2 separate regions of the Homo sapiens genome follow, and region 1 is linked to region 2. Evidence: fine-mapped expression QTL. Tissue or cell type: whole blood. Region 2 holds a variant in brackets; the other region holds the start of a gene. All regions are shown on one strand. Distances are between the middles of the regions.

Evidence for each region. PIP is the estimated chance that this variant, and not a neighbour inherited with it, causes the effect.
Region 1: MRPL41 starts here. The variant in region 2 is fine-mapped to the expression of MRPL41 in whole blood (TOPMed, PIP above 0.99).

What each region holds. Positions count from the first base shown.
Region 1 is chr9:137,547,028-137,555,167 of GRCh38, forward strand. MRPL41 (mitochondrial ribosomal protein L41) reads left to right here and starts at 4,852. Exons shown (of 2, transcript NM_032477.3): 1 at 4,852-4,951; 2 at 5,047-5,528. The coding sequence starts at 5,055. The coding sequence ends at 5,468. It overlaps PNPLA7 (patatin like domain 7, lysophospholipase), which reads right to left and starts at 3,375. Exons shown (of 35, transcript NM_001098537.3): 1 at 3,141-3,375; 2 at 558-632; 3 at 282-369. The coding sequence starts at 3,170. It overlaps DPH7 (diphthamide biosynthesis 7), which reads right to left. Exons shown (of 9, transcript NM_138778.5): 9 at 7,417-8,140. It overlaps LOC124902317 (a long non-coding RNA gene), which reads right to left and starts at 6,653. Exons shown (of 2, transcript XR_007061883.1): 1 at 6,560-6,653; 2 at 5,500-5,674. RefSeq lists an enhancer at 2,484-2,985 and a silencer at 4,174-5,123.
Region 2 is chr9:137,589,129-137,597,298 of GRCh38, forward strand. ZMYND19 (zinc finger MYND-type containing 19) reads right to left here and starts at 1,384. Exons shown (of 6, transcript NM_138462.3): 1 at 1,085-1,384. The coding sequence starts at 1,135. LOC124902318 (a long non-coding RNA gene) reads right to left here. Exons shown (of 3, transcript XR_007061885.1): 2 at 3,677-3,742; 3 at 1,911-1,980. RefSeq lists an enhancer at 470-519 and silencers at 790-839, 890-999, 1,280-1,669, 1,860-1,929. The variant C/T (reference allele first, on the strand shown) is at 4,742.

The DNA of each region.
Region 1 (8,140 bases), 42 kb before region 2:
ACAGCATGAGGGAAGAGGGCCTGAGTGACAGGCTCATCTCCAACAAAGGGGGCTCTCCCCTCTTCCCACTGAAGCCTTGCTCAGGAGAGGAGAACAGAAAGGGCTCTGAACAGACTTGGCTTCCTGGAACCGACGGGCTCAGCCTGAGCCCAGACGGGCCATCAGATTCTAGCCAAAGCCACCATGCGCTTGAGGGCCCCTCCCAGGGGCTCAAAACACATCCCAAGACACCCACGCTTTCCCCCAACCCCCCGGGCCAGAGTCGGAACCAAGATACTCACGAAATTGTCTAAGCCTTCTGAACATGAAAAGGATGAGGACACCAACCAAGGCCAGGGCCAGGAGGGCTCCAACTGCAATCCCCGTCAGCTGGCCGAGAGTGGAAACACGGCGCCCATCAGCAAAGCCACAAACCTAACCCTAGCCCTAAGCCTGCCCCCACCCCTGGCTGCCCAACCACAGGCTGGGCAGGAATGAGCCAGGGGATGGGGACAGGGAGAGGTGAAAAAGGCCACGGCCCATCCAGGTCTGGCTCCAGGGAAGCGTGAGGTGATTACCATGGTGGACGGTGAACCTTCCTCCGTGAACCACAGTCCCCAAGAGTGCAGGGCGGTGCCCAGGCAGAAGTCAGCCTGCAGCAGAGAGCATGGGGTCAGGTGGGCATGGACAGGCTTCCCAGCCCGAACTTGTTCAGAGCAGCAGGAGGAGAGCTGGGAGTTAGGGGAGAAGTCAGCAGCCCTGGAGACTTCTGGGAAGAAGTGATCTCGCCCGGGGTGCCGGGGTCCTCTGAGCCCCCTGCTAGGAAGCACTCAGAGAGCAACCTGGCTCCCTCAGTCACTGGGATACAGTGGGGCAGGGCCAGCGGCTGCCCCAGGCATCACTAACACACCCACATGCTGGTGATGCAATCCTTGGGATGCAGGTCTCAGGGAGCAGGCCTGGCCAAAGGGGAGGCCAAGGCCCCCCTCTCAGTGTCGCCTCAGCCCCAGCAGGAGCAGTGCTCAAAACCCCTATGAGCCATCTGGATTCTGAGAACATTCAACACCAGTTCACATGCCAAACAAGGAGGCAGCGGCCGAGAAGGCTCTGTGTCCTGCAGTCTCCTGGAGCAGCAGGACTTCAGAAGTCCAGGTCCGCGGGAGGGAGGGAAGAGAGGGTGAGGGCAGGATGGTGAGTGAACGACAGCAGAGGACGCTGGTGGTTCCAAGAAGTGAAAGAGAAAACGAGAAGACGAGAAGACGACACCAGCCAGACAGGCAGCCCTCTCCATTCCTGCTGGCATCACACCTTCCTCCCAGGCAGCCAGGAACCGGATAGGGCAGGGGAAGCCACTGGTTCAGCCTGAAAGTTTCTACACAAGAGCCAAGGCCTAAAACAACACCCACCCCCGCCTCACTGCAGAGAGCAGGACTCCCATCCGTGCCAGAAAATCCAGGGAAGGGCCGGGCGCAGTGGCTCACGCCTGCAATCCCAGCACTTTGGGAGGCTGAGGCGGGCGGATCATGAGGTCAGGAGATCGAGACCATCCTGGCTAACACGGTGAAACCCCGTCTCTACTAAAAATTCAAAAATTAGCCGGGCGTGGTGGTGGGTGCCTGTAGTCCCAGCTACTTGGGAGGCTGAGGCAGGAGAATGGCGTGAACCCGGGAGGCAGAGCTTGCAGTGAGCTGAGATTGTGCTACTGCACTCCAGCCTGGGCGACAGAGCGAGACTCCATCTCAAAAAAAAGAAAACTCAGGGAAGTCAGAAGAGCACTCAGAAACGCATTTAAAGACACAATTCTGCACCAAGACAGAATGAGGACGTGCCCAGAAAGCTGAGCCCTTCGAACTTGGTTCAGAAGCAAATACAAGCCCTGGGAGCTTCTGCTTCAGGACAGGGGAACCCCTACGCTCACTCTCAACCAGGTGGGGAGCAGAGAAGCACCTACGACCATGTCCCTCACTTAAGGAAGCGAAGTGAGTCCCTCAGCCCAGCAACCGCTTCTGGGACCGATTATCCAAGGAAGGCCTATCACGCGATGGCCCGTGACCTGGTCACAGGCTCTCCTGCGGTGGAGCGGCTCAGCCTTTTCTAGCTTTTCACTGTTGCTTTAATGGGTCCAGTGTTCTGGTTTAGGAAATAAGGCCTTTGCCATGTGGCTACAGATGTTTGACTAAGAAAAAGATTCTAGGGCTGGGCACAGTGTCTCACGCCTGTAATCCCAGCACTTTGGGAGGCCGAGGCGGGCAGATCATGAGGTCAAGAGTTCAAGACTAGGCCGGGCACGGTGGCTCATGCCTGTAATCCCTGCACTTTGGGAGGCCAAGGCGGGCGGATCACGAGGTCAGGAAATCGAGACCATCCTGGCTAACACAGTGAAACACCGTCTCTACTGAAAATACAAAAAAATATTAGCCGGGCGTGGTGGTGGGCGCCTGTAGTCCCAGCTACTTGGGAGGCCGAGGCAGGAGAATGGCGTGAACCTGGGAGGCAGAGCTTGCAGTGAGTTGAGATCGTGCCACTGCAATCCAGCTTGGGCGACAGAGCAAGACTCCGTCTCAAAAAAAAAAAAAAAAAAAGTTCAAGACCAGCCTGGCCAACATGGCGAAACCCCGTTTCTACTAAGAATACAAAAATTAGCCGGGCGTGGTGCCTGTAGTCCCAGCTACCCGGGAGGCTGAGGCAGAATTGCCTGAACCCAGGAGGCGGAGGTTGCTGTGAGCCAAGATCACACCATTGCACACCAGCCTGGGCGACAGAGCGAGACTCCGTCTTGGGAAAAAAAAAAACACAGAAAAAGGTTCTAAGCAAAACCATCAGGCAAAGTCCTAAAGGAACTGGAAGTAGCAACTGTGACCTTAGGGGAAGAAAAGACAAGGCCTCAGGCAATGCCCATGGGCCACCGCTGGCTGCCCTCGCTGTGAACAATGCCCATGGGCCACCACTGGCTGTCTGCTGTGACAGGCGCGTCTAACAAGTGCTGGCAGCTGTGACAGGCAGCAGAGAGGGGCCAGATCCACCACTCCCACAGTCCTCAGGCGCCAAGAAGCCACGGGGCCAAAGAGCGCGGCAGAGCAGACGCCAAGAGGACCCTTCTCTGGGTCCAGAAATGCCCCCCAACTGGGAAATCCAGGCATCTGGTCCCCCGAGTTACATACCTGTGGGCTGTCATCTTTCTCTTCCTCCATGGCCAGAAACAGAAAAAACAGTCAGGGGCGAAAAGCAGACAGCCTGAAGCAAACAAGGGCACACCTCTACCCGCTCATGCTCACACCTGGACACTTTTCCCTGGGTTCCTTTCAAGTCAAATTATGTTTCACTGAAAGGAAAATCCTGCTGAAAAAGTCTGTTCTCCAGGAAGAAAAGCTGTCTTTTGAGAAGTGTCTGTCATCTGCTAGGAGCCACCTCCTTCCCTCTGTAAACAGCCCTCACGTGGCTGTCCCGGAACCCAGAACAGCAGCCAGATGGGGCGTATCCAAGCAGGTCAAGAGGAGCCAGGCCCAGCGCGGCGGGGATGGGGGCAGCGCTGCCTTCTGGAGAAGCACGGCTGGAGGGGAGGTGACGCTGGCGGGGCGTGGATCCGGGGTGTGGGGATGCAGCTGGGGAGGAGGGTGCAGCTGGGGAGGGGGTGGATCCGGCGTGTAGGGGTACCGCTGGGGAGTGGGTGCAGCTGGGGAGGGGGTGGATCTGGGGTGTGGGGGTGCCGCTGGGGAGTGGGTGCAGCTGGGGAGGGGGTGGATCCGGCGTGTAGGGGTACCGCTGGGGAGTGGGTGCAGCTGGGGAGGGGGTGGATCTGGGGTGTGGGGGTACTGCTGGGGAGAGGGTGCAGCTGGGGAGCGCGTGGATCCGGCGAGTGGGGGTACCGCTAGGGAGGGGGTGCAGCTGGGGAGGGGGTGGATCTGGGGTGTGGGGGTGCCGCTGGGGAGGGGGTGCAGCTGGGGAGGGGGTGGATCTGGGGCGTGGGGGTGCCGCTGGGGAGGGGGTGCAGCTGGGGAGGGGGTGGATCTGGGGCGTGGGGGTGCCGCTGGGGAGGGGGTGCAGCTGGGGAGGGGATGGATCTGGGGTGTGGGGGTACCGCTGGGGAAGGGCGTGCAGCTGGAGAGGGGATGGATCTGGGCTGTGGGGGTGCCGCTGGGGACGGGGTGCAGCTGGGGAGGGGGTGGATCCGGATTGTGAGGGTGCGGCTGGGGGGCGACTTCCGCGTGGGGTGAGAGGTCGCCTGCGAGGGTGACCGGGCAGGAGGGCTCAGTGCGCAAGCCGGACGTGCTGGGTCCAAGATTATTGATTAATTTGGGCACCGCGAGGGCTCGAGTCCCCCCACACCACTGCCCGGCCTGCGGGGGAGCACAGACAGCCCGGGCCCTCCCGGCTGCAGGTCCCGGGCTTTCCCCGCGCGGTTGCCGGCTCCGCCCAGAGGAGCCGCGCCCGGCGGAGGGGTAAGAAAGGCAGGGTCGCGGCGTCAACGCGGCGGCCGTCTCGAGTCCAGGGCCCGCGTCCTCCCCGACCTCCCGACGCCACCTCACGGCCTCAGGGGGACTGGGCTCCCGGGAAACCGCCGGCCACCTGGCGGACGAACACAGGCAGTGGCGGGCAGTGGAGACGCCAGGGACCACCGCGCTGAGAGCGATCACTCATCCGCCAGCCCCGCCCCGCGAGCCCCGCCCCGCGAGCCCCGCCCCGCGAGCCCCGCCCCGCGAGCCCCGCCCCGCGAGCCCCGCCCCGCGAGCCCCGCACCGCCGGCCCCGCACCGCCAGCCCCGCGAGCCCCGCCCCGCCCCGCGCGCTCCTCGCATTGGCCGAGTCCCCGCGGCCACACCCCCTACCAGATTGGGGCCGCTATTGGACGCGGCGGCCGCGGCCAATCGGAGCCGCTCTTGCTGCGACGCAGCGGTCGGAAGCGGAGCAAGGTCGAGGCCGGGTTGGCGCCGGAGCCGGGGCCGCTTGGAGCTCGTGTGGGGTCTCCGGTCCAGGTGAGTCTGTCGGATTGGGGCGGGCGCCGCGCGCGGCCAGGGGCGGGGCTGGCCGGGTTCCCGGGGCCGCGACTACCCGCTCTCTCCTCCCGCAGGGCGCGGCATGGGCGTCCTGGCCGCAGCGGCGCGCTGCCTGGTCCGGGGTGCGGACCGAATGAGCAAGTGGACGAGCAAGCGGGGCCCGCGCAGCTTCAGGGGCCGCAAGGGCCGGGGCGCCAAGGGCATCGGCTTCCTCACCTCGGGCTGGAGGTTCGTGCAGATCAAGGAGATGGTCCCGGAGTTCGTCGTCCCGGATCTGACCGGCTTCAAGCTCAAGCCCTACGTGAGCTACCTCGCCCCTGAGAGCGAGGAGACGCCCCTGACGGCCGCGCAGCTCTTCAGCGAAGCCGTGGCGCCTGCCATCGAAAAGGACTTCAAGGACGGTACCTTCGACCCTGACAACCTGGAAAAGTACGGCTTCGAGCCCACACAGGAGGGAAAGCTCTTCCAGCTCTACCCCAGGAACTTCCTGCGCTAGCTGGGCGGGGGAGGGGCGGCCTGCCCTCATCTCATTTCTATTAAACGCCTTTGCCAGCTATACGGTGTTTGTTTTTTGGCCTCAGGTCATGGCAAAGTGTGCAGCATGACAGATTTCAGTGCAGGCACCTAAGCCGAGTTCTCATGCAGACTCGGCGCTGTGAACCTCTTTGGAGGTCATCTTCCGAGTCCGAAGGTTCTGGGAACCTGCCAAGGGCAAACATCACTCAGCTTGCAGGAGAAAGAATTTACAAGGCAGATTGTGCCGGATGACAGCACTGGTCAGTTCATCCCCCAAATTATTCACCCAGGGAACAAAGATACAGAGATGGGGGTCTCACTATGCTGCCCAGGCTGAGAACTCATGGGCTGAAATGATCCGCCCGCCTCAGCCTCCCAAAATGCTGGGATTACAGGTGTGAGCCACTGCGCCCAGCCTAGGAAAATTTCCTGTTGCAATCTGACATATAGTGACATGTTGTGTTGTATCATCAGAAAAGAAGAAAGGGATAAGGCCAGGTGCGGTGGCTCACGCCTGTAATCCCAGCACATTGGGAGGCTGAGGCGGGAGGATCACAAGATTAGGAGTTCAAGACCAGCCTGGCCAGCATGATGAAACCCCATCTCTACTAAAAATACAAAAATTAGCCAGGCGTGGTGGCGTGCGACTGTAGTCCCAGCTACTCCAAAGGCAAGAGAATCGCTTAAACCCAGGAGGCAGAGCTTGCAGTGAGTCGAGATCGCACCACTGCACTCCAGCCTGGGTAACAGAGTGAGACTCCGTCTCAAAAAAGGGATAAAACTGCATGTTTTTTTGCTTGTAGTCACCTATGTATCATTAGTAAATGCTGAGGATTTGACAAATAGTGGCCTGTACCTCAACCACAGTTCCTCCCAGAGAGACAAAAGCCCTCACAGCAGGAGTTGGATGTAACACACCCAGTTTGTTCACACACCTAAAGTCACCATCTGTCCAGTATTTGGGAGCTAACCCGTGTGGGTGCTGCAGTGATGAGTGTTCCCTACAGACTTCACATATTTCAAGCTGATGACCCCCAAGGCAACTTGGAACACACACTCCCTTTTACTTACCTGCATAGGGATCCAATACAGGTTGAGCGTCGTTATCCAAAATGCTTGGGGCTGGGCGCCCTGGCTCATGCCTGTAATCCCAGCACTTTGGGAAGCCGAGACAGGCGGGTCATCTGAGGTCAGGAGCCTGGCCAACATGGTGAAACCCCATTTGTACTAAAAATACAAAAATTAGCCAGGCATGGTGGCACACACCTGTAATCCCAGCTACTCCGGAGGCTGAGGCAGGAGAATCACTTGAACCTGGGAGGTGGAGGGCAGTGAGTCGAGATGGAGCCACCGAGATTGAGCCACTGCACTCCAGCCTGGGTGACGAGCATGACTCTGTCTCAAAAAAAAAAAAAGGCACAGCTCAACGCCTGTAATCCCGGCACTTTGGGCGGCCAAGGTGGACGGATCACCTGAGGTCCAGAGTTTGAGAGCAGCCTGACCAACATGGAGAAACCTTGTCTCTACTAAATATACAAAATTAGCCGGGCATGCTGGTGGATGCCAGCTATTGGGAGGGTGAGGCAGGAGAATCGCTTGAACTTGGGAGGCGGAGGTTGCAGTGAGTCAAGATTGTGCCATTGCACCCCAGCCTGGGCAGCAAGAGCAAAACTCCATCTCGGGGGGCAAAAAAAAAAAAAGCTTGGAACCAGAAATGTTTTGGATTTCAGATTTTGGAATATCTGCATGTACATAATGAGACATCTTGGGGATGAGATGAGATACAAGTCTAAACATGAAATTCAATTTTGTTTCATGTACACCTTATACACATAGCCTGAGGGTAGTTTTATACAATATATATGTTTTTTAGGCTAGTCAAATGAAGCTGTGAGAGAAGGAATGAATCTGTAACTGGTTGTCCTCAATTATTGTTTATACAATTTTTTATTATTTAATTTTTAGAGATAAGAGTCTTGCTCTGTTGCCCCTGGCTCATTGCAGCCTCGACCTCCTGGGCTCAACAATCCTCCTGCCTCAGCCTCCCAAGTGGCTGGGACCATAGGCACATGCACCACACCTGGCTAATTTTTGTTTTACTTTTTATAGAGACTGGGTTTTGCTATGTTGCCCAGGCTGGTCTTGAACTCCAGGCCTCAAGCAATCCTCCTGCCTCAGCCCCTTCCAAAGTGCTGGGATTACAGGCCACTGTGACTGTGCTCAGTAGTTTTAATAATATATGCAACCCGTCACATGAGTTCAGCTGCGGGATTTTCCAAAAGTTTTGGGATTTTGGATTTTTGGACTGGCTGTGCTCAATCTATACAAGCATTTCTGGTGCCATGATGAGGCATAAAATGTTCATTTTAAACATGTTATAAACTCGTGTTTTTCAAAAAACTTCATTTAATACAAATAGTTGCTTAAACAAGTATGAAAGGCTGAAAGTCAAAATCTGCCTGAGAAACTTAACAAATCTGCAAGCTGGAAACCGCGTCTTTTCCCCACTCTCTGCCAGACAGAATCACCCAGTCCACTTTCAGGGGCCCAGCAGGGAAGCTGATTTAAGAGAAGTCAACAGCTTTTCTGACTACACTGTGGATTCCATCAGTGCACAGGCACCTGCAGGGCTGCAGTAAGCATCTCTGATGA
Region 2 (8,170 bases):
GAGCTACTCACTGATTACCCTTTTTAGCTTTTTGTCCATCTGAAATGTTCCAAAGAAAAGCTGTAAGGGATGACAATGCCATCATGGGTGGAGTTAGAAGGGGTCTCTGGTCTCCGACCTGACTGGAGAGCCCACCCTTCCCTGGTGGAAAAAAGCCTCCTCCCCAGCAGGCCCTGCCTATGCTCTTGCAGCAGGGGCAGGAAACAGGAACAGGTCCCAGAACGGGCCAGTCTCCCTCTTGGCAGTTTTTCTTCTGGGATCTGAACCTGTTTTACCTGACGCCGCCTGACACTGCCTCGGCTCCTCTCTCCCACCAAAAGCCGCAGCCGCTGGTGACGGGAACAGGGCTCCCATCCGGGTAAGGACCCTGGCTGGTGCAGCTGCACAGGTGGCTCCGAGAAACCGCCAAGCCTCAATGCCCACAGGTGCCATGGAATCCCCAGCCTCAAACGTGGAGCGTGGGGGCCAAGTAAGAAGAGAAGTCGAGGAAGGCCCTGAGTCTGCAGCATCAGGGCCCAGGCTTCTTCCTCTCTGCTCCGAGTCTGAGGCTCAGCCTAACGTGGCCAACCCCTGGCAGCGTTAAAACGAGCCTGAAGCCCTGCTGAGAACTGGGAGGCACAGAAGAGCCCACACCAGACCCGCCTCGGCGAGAGGTGTGGAAGTGGCGCTGCCTCGGAAAGGGCGCTGTGTTTAAACCGTGTGGCCGCACTGGCAGCCCGGACGCCGCGCTAGGCCCCGGATCGCCGACACCACTGGGAGGGCTCCGGGAGAACGCGGCTCGGGCTCGAGCCACGCATCTCCGCACCCGGCTCGGGACAGGGCCGTGGCCTCCACCTCCGGCAGGGCAGGGCCGAGGGTGGCCAGGTGCACCCCAGAGCCGAGGGGTGCGTGCCCGCCGGCCTGCGAGAGGAAGCTGCACCCGCGCGGGGCCAGCAGCCGGGCCCGCGCAGCGTCCCCCGCCCCGCTGGGGCCCATCCCGGGCTCCGCGCCCCCGCCCCGGCCGCCGCCCGCACAACCGCCCCCGGCCCCGCGCGGAGGCCTGGACGGGCGAGACGGGCCGGGTCGCGGGCTCCGCGCCGCTCACCTTCCCGGCCACCCGGCCGAGCCGCACGATACCCAATTTGAAGTCGGTCATGGCCGGGCCTGCGCTCTCGGCCGGCAGCGCCGCTCCCTCGGGAGGCGCCGAGCGGGGGCCGGGGCGAGGCCGCGGCGCGCCGGGACAGGACGGGACCGGAGCCGGGGTCGGGGTAGCAGCCAGGCGGGCTCCGGGCGGGACGAGGCTGGGCCGGGCTCGGGCCTCCGCCGCCGCCTCGCGCCCGCCGGACCTGCCACGCGCCGCCGCCGCCGCCGCCACCGCCACCGCGCGCACCACAGCGAGCGGAGCGGAGGGGCGGGGCGCAGCCCCGGACACACCCCCCGGCCCGCCGCCGCTCGGCCAATGGCTAGGCGCGCACGGCGCCGACCGGCGCGCGCCGCCCCGCAACAACCAATAGGAGGAGGGCGAGTGCGCCGGCGCTCTGGGGAGCGGGGCGAGCGCGGGGGAGGGGCGAGGCCGGGGGCGGTGCCTGCGCGCGCCGACGTCAGTTTCGCGGGAAGCTTTGTGCGGGCAGCGGCGCCGCGCCTAGAGGGGCAGTGCGGAGTGTGGCTGGGGACTCGCGCCGGGTCCGTGGAGCTCTGCGAGCTGGCTGCTTTTCGCCTCCCTTGCGGTAGCCTCCGTAAGCTGTTTCCCGCCGCCGTCCTGGCCCCGAGCGCGGAAGGAGGAGGTGGACGGAGCTCGTGCGGGGCCCTCTGGGCGGGCGGGGAGCGGGCGAGGCGGGCTAGGAAGAGGCCGTTGCCGCGGGACGCGGGTGTTTCTGGAGAGACAGCGGACGCCCGGCCCACGCGACCCGGAGGGCGCGGCCTCCCGCGCAGCCTTCTCCGAGCCGCCGGCTCTTCAGCCTCGGGGGCGGCTGACCTCCAGAGCAGCCTGGTCCAAGGCGTCTGGAAACGGAACTCCAGTGAGGCCCATTAGGCTCCGCGGGAAAGCCGAGACCCGCTCAGGGAGGGACTGGGTACGCCGTGGTGGGCAGCGTGGCTCCCCTGCAGCCTGGAGCGAACGGGGCTAGGTCCTGCGTCCTGCTCCGCCGGTGTCCAGTCGCCCGTGAGGAGGCCTCACCCTGCCTCAAGGGCGACTCCTGCACCTGAGGAGCTGCACAGGCTCCTTTCTGGCTTGCTGGGTTCCGTTTTCTTTTCTTGCTTTTTTTTTTTTTTTTTTTGAGTCAGAGTTTTGCTCTGTCACCCAGGCTAGAGTGCAGTGGCACGATCTCGGCTCACTGCAGCCTCTGCCTCTCGGGTTCAAGCGACTCTCCTGCCTCAGCCTCCCGAGTAGCTGGGACTACAGGCACGCGCCACCATGTCCGGCTAATTTTTGTATTTTTAGTAGAAGTGAGGTTTTTCCATATTGGCCAGGATGGTCTCGAACTCCCAACCTGAGGTGATCGGCCCACCTCGGCCTCCCAAAGTGCTGGGATTACAGGCATGAGCCACCGTGCCCCAGCCTGCAAAGGGTGTACATGAGTGAGCCCAGACGTTCCATCTCTGGGTCCCCTGGTACTTGCCAGTACCCCAGACACCCTAGAGGACTGAAGGGGCTGATGAGTCCTGGCCTGCCTGAGACACACATTGGGGTTCAGGCTGGGCCTTGCTCAAAACATGCCTGTCCGACCGCGCGCGGTGGCTCATGCCTGTAATCCTAGCACTTTGGGAGGCCGAGGCGGGCAGATCACGAGGTCAGGAGCTGGAGACCATCCTGGCTAACACGGTGAAACCCCACCTCTACTAAAAATACAAAAAAAAAAGCCGGGCGTGGTGGCGGGTGCCTGTAGTCCCAGCTACTTGGGAGGCTGAGGCAAGAGAATGGCTTGAACCCGGGAGGCAGAGCTTGCAGTGAGCCGAGATCGTGCCACTGCACTCCAGGTTGGGCGACAGAGCGAGACTCCGTCTCAAAAAAAAAAAAAAAAGTACCTGCCCTACCAATCTCAACCTCATGGAGTTGCAAGGGTGTGATGAGATTATGAGCAACTGCTTTGTGAAAAGAAGTGGAGCTTGGTGGGTGCTCCCTAGGGTAGTTGAAAAGCACTGGTGTCATAGTCCAGGTTCCCCCAGAGGTTGACTTGAAATGGATTCGAGTCCAAATTTTGTCCGGGCCTGGTGGCTCATACCTGTAATCCCAGCACTTTGGGAGGCCGAGGCAAGTGGATCACCTGAGGTCAGGAGTTCAAGACCAGCTTGGCCAACAGGGTGAAATCCCGTTTCTACTAAAAATACAAAAATTAGCGGATGTGGTGGCACACACTTGTATTCCCAGCTACTTGGGAGGCTGAGGCAGGAACATCGCGTGAACCCAGGAGGCAGAGGTTGCAGTGAGCCAAGATTGTGCCACCACACTCCAGTCTGGGCAACAGAGTGAAACTCCGTCAAAAAAAAAAAAAAGTCCAAATTGTTAGCTTGAGAGAAGACCCCAGGAGACACCAGCAGGAGAGTAGGGGTGTGAGGCAGGGAAGGGGGTGCTACCAGTCCAGTTACTGTAGCAGGCGCTTGTGTAGGAACCATCCTCAGAGTCCCTCCCCGAGGGCCAGGGGAGCCAAGGCATTCACCCTTCACCCTGCTGCAAGGGGACCCAGCATTCACCTCTCACCTTGCAGTCATTGGTTGGAGGCTGTTCCTGGCAAGGTGACTTCTTGGCTCCAAAGCCGAGAAAGACCTGCAGGTGTTGACACAGCGCAGTGCTGCGGGCAGTGCCCAGCTGGCTTGGGAACTCATACCTGGTCCACCACAAGCCGGCTGCTTTATCTACACATTCTACCCAAGTATGAATGTGGCACCCCTGCCTCTGTGTCCTGCGAGGGTGGAATTATGTAACGCTGGGGCGGTGCTTCCTCTCACTGCAGCTTCCCTCTCCCAGGGGCAGGCACCTTAAAAAGAAGCCCTTGACTCCCCCATCCCTTTCCAGCCACTGCCTCATTTTCCTACTTCCCATCCCAGCAAGAGTTTTTAACAGGTTGTCTGTACTTGGCGTCTCCTCTTATCTCCTAGTTAATTCGTTTTCTATCACTTTATAACAACCAACCACAAAAGAGCACCCATTATCTCACGGTTCTGTGCATTAGAAGTGCAGGTGGGTTTGACTGGCTTCTCTGCTGCAGGTCTCAGGGCTGAAATCAGGGTGTCAGCTGCCTCAGCTCTTAGCAGGGGCCCTAGGGGAGACCCGGGCTACAGGCTCCTTCAGGTTGTTGACATTCATCACATGGTTGTATGAGGTCTCCGCTTGCTGGCTGCCGGCCCGGGGTTGTTCTCAGCTTCTAGAGGTCGCTCACATCTTCAAAACCAGCAAGACTTTCTTTTCTTTTTAGACAGAGTCTGGCTTCGTCATCCAGGCCGGAGTGCAGTGGTACAATCTCGGGTCGCTGCCACCTCCGCCTCCCGGGTTCAAGTGATTCTCCTGCCTCAGCTTCCCGAGTAGCTGGGACTACAGGTGCCCTCCACCATGCCCAGCTAATTTTTAAATTTTTAGTAGACATGGTTTCACCATGCCAGCCAGGCTAGTCTTGAACTCCCGGCTTCAAGTGATCCGCCCGCCTCAGCCTCCCAAAATGCTGGGATTACAGGTGTGAGCCATTGTGCCCGGCCAAAGCCAGCCTTTCTACTACTTCACGTCTTTGATCCTTTCTGTCCCATTTCTCCCACCTTCAGCTGGAGAAAG[C/T]TTTATGCCTTTAAGTGTTCCTGTGATTAGATTGGGTCCACCCAGATAAACAGGATAATCTCCCTATTTTAAGGTCACTAATTGGTAACCTACTTACATCTGCAAAGTCCCTTTTGTTATGTAACATAATATTACAGGCGCAGGCATAAGGGCGTGACACCTTTGGGGGGCATTCTGCCTACCGCCCAAGTCTCCTGACAGCCCACTCCAGCTGGGCTTTCACCCCTCCCACTGCTGAAACTGCTCCACACCAATGAACAAAATCAATGAAAGCCCCTGCTCATACTCGAGTGAGGGGGGCAGAACATACACGTAATGAGGAACCATACACCGCGTTGGCCAGTGAGAAGTGCAATGGGGAGAACAAGTCCATCACCATAAGGCAGTCAGAGGCCCTGCTGCAGGGGTGGGCAGAGCCGTCCTCTGAGAAAACAGCATTGGAACTTGCAGTGGAAGGAGACAGAGTGAGCCGTGTGGCTATACAGGGCAGAACATTCTTGGCAGAAGGAACGGCCTGTGCAAAGGCCCTAAGCTGCGACATGTCTGGCATGTTTGAAAATAGAGAGGTGGGGCTGGGTGTGGTGGCTCACTTTGGGAGGCCGGGGTGGGTGGATCACTTGAGGCCAGGAGTTCAACACCAACCTGGCCAACAGGGCAAAACCCTGTCTCTACTAAAAATACAAAAATTAGCCAGGTGTGGTGGCACATGCCTGTAATCCCAGCTACTCGGGAGGCTGAGGCAGGAGAATCGCTTGAACCCAGGAGGCAGAGGTTGCAGTGAGCTGAGATCACTCCACTGCACTCCAACCTGGGCAACAGGGCAAGACTCTGTCATGAAAGAAAATGGATGGCCTGAACCTGGGAGGTGGAGCTTGCAGTGAGCCTAGATCACGCCACTGCACTACAGCCTGGGCGACAGAGCAAGACTTCGTCTCGAAAGAAAATGGAGAGGTGGCCAATGAACTGGCCACTGAGAAGCAGCAGCACATGGGGCGGCGGGAGGGGCGGCAAGTACAGGATGAGCATTCAGATCTGAAATCTGAGATGCTGCAAAATCTGAACCTTGTAAGCACTGACATGACACTCAAAGGAAGTGCTCATTGGAGCATTTTGGATTTTGGATATGGAAAGCGCCATCAGGCAAGTATAATACAAAGAGTCCAAAATCCAAAATCTGAAACACTTCTAGTCCCGAGCATTTTGGATAAGGGACACTCGACCTCTCCTGGTAAGTGGTGATGTTTGGACCTGTGGTGGAGGGGTGTGTATGTCAGGATGGGCCTGGGTATGCTGCAGTAACAACCCCAAGTTCTCAGCGGCTTAGCCAAATAAAAATGTGTTACTTATGCTACATGTTAAGGTTACAAGGCAGTTGAATGTATAAGTAGAATATGTGAGTATAGAGTTCACAGAGATGTCCAGCCTGGGAATATAAGTTTGGCATCATGGCTGAGCGCGGTGGCTCACGCCTGTACTCCCAGCATTTTGGGAGACCGAGGCGGGCAGATCACGAGGTCAGGAGTTCAAGACCAGCTTGGCCAACATGGTGAAACCCTGTCTCTACTAAAAATACAAAAATTAGCCGGATGTGGTGGTGCGCACCTGTATTCCCAGCTACTCGGGAGGCTGAGGCAGGAGAATGACTTGAACCTGGGAGGCAGAGGTTGCAGTGAGCCAAGATCATGCCGTTGCGCTCCAGCCTGGGCAATAGAGTGAGACTCTGTCTCAAAAAAACAAAAAAAAAGTTTGGCATCATTAGCACATTTATTATATTTAAAGCTCTCTTAGAGACAGGTGCAGTGGCTCACACCTGTAATCCCTGCACTTTGGGAGGCTGAGGTTGGTGGATCGCTTGAGCCCAGGAGTTTGAGACCAGGCTGGGCAACATGGCAAGATGCTGTCTCTACAAAAAACAAAAATTAGCCAGGCATAGTGGCCCATGCCTGTAGTCACAGCTACTTGGGAGGCTGGGGTGGAAGGATCACCTGAGCCTGGGGATGTTGAGGATGCAGTGAGCTGTGATGGGGCCACTGCCCTCCAGCCTGGGTGACAGAGTGAGACCCTGAATTTTGGAGGGACACAAGCATTCAAACCATGGCAAAACTCATAAAACTGGATGAGATTACCATGAGGGAAAACGTGGATGTAGAGAGTGCAGCACTATTCACAAGAGCAAAGACATGGAATCAACCTAAATGCTGGCCAGCCCGGTGGCTCAGGCCTGTAATCCCAGCACTTTTGGAGGACGAGGCAGGCAGATCACCTGAGGTCAGGAGTTCGAGACCAGCCTGGCCAACATGGTGAAATCCCATCTCTACTAAAAATACAATTAGCTGGGTGTACTGGCAGTTGCCTGTAATCCCAGGTAGTTGGGAGGCTGAGACAGGAGAATCACTTGAATCCGGGAGGTGGAGGTTGCAGTGAGCCAAGATCATGCCACCACTGCAGTCTAGTCTGGGCTACAGAGTGAGACTCCATCTCAAACAAACAAACAAAAACCTAAATGCCCATCAGTGACAGATTGGATAAAGAAAATGTGGTACAGCCGGGCACAGTGGCTTACGCCTGTAATCCCAGCACTTTGGGCGGCTGAGGCGGGTGGAACACCTGGGGTCAGAAGTACAAGACCAGCCTGGCCAACATGGTGAAACCCCATCTCTACTAAAAATACAAAAATTAGCTGGGCGTGATGGTGTGTGCCTGTAATCCCAGCTACTTGAGAGGCTGAGGCAGGAGAATCGCTTGAGTCCAGGAGGTGGAGGTTGCAGTGAGCCGAGATTGCGCCATTGCACCCCAGCCTGGGCGACAGAGCGAGACTCAGTCTCAAAAAAAAAAAAAAAAAAAAAAAAAGCTGTGGTACATATACACCATGGAATACTATGCAGCTATAAAAAAATGAGAGCATGTCTTTTGTGGGAACATGGATGGAGCTGGAGGCGATCATCCTTAGCAAACTAACACAGGAACAGAAAACCAAATACCACATGTTCTCACTTACATGTGGGAGCTAAATGATGAGAGCTTATGAACACGAAGAAGAAAATAATACTGGGCTTAATGCCTGGATGATGAGATAATATGTACAACAAACCTGGTGACAGGTGTTTACCTATGTAACAAACCTCACATATCCCCAAACCTAAAGTAAAAGTTTAAAGTTAGGCCGGGTGTGGTGGCTCACACCTGTAATCCCAGCACTTTGGGAGGCCGAGGTGGGTGGATCACCTGAGGTCAGGAGTTCAAGACCAGTCTGGCCAACATGGCAGAAACCTGTTTGTAAACCTCTACTAAAAAAACAAAAATTAGGGCCAGGGCGGTGACTCACACCTGTAATCCCAGCACTTTGGGAGGCCGAGGAGGGCGGATCACCTGAGGTCAGGAGTTCGAGACCAGCTTGACCAACATGGAGACACCCCATCTCTACTAAAA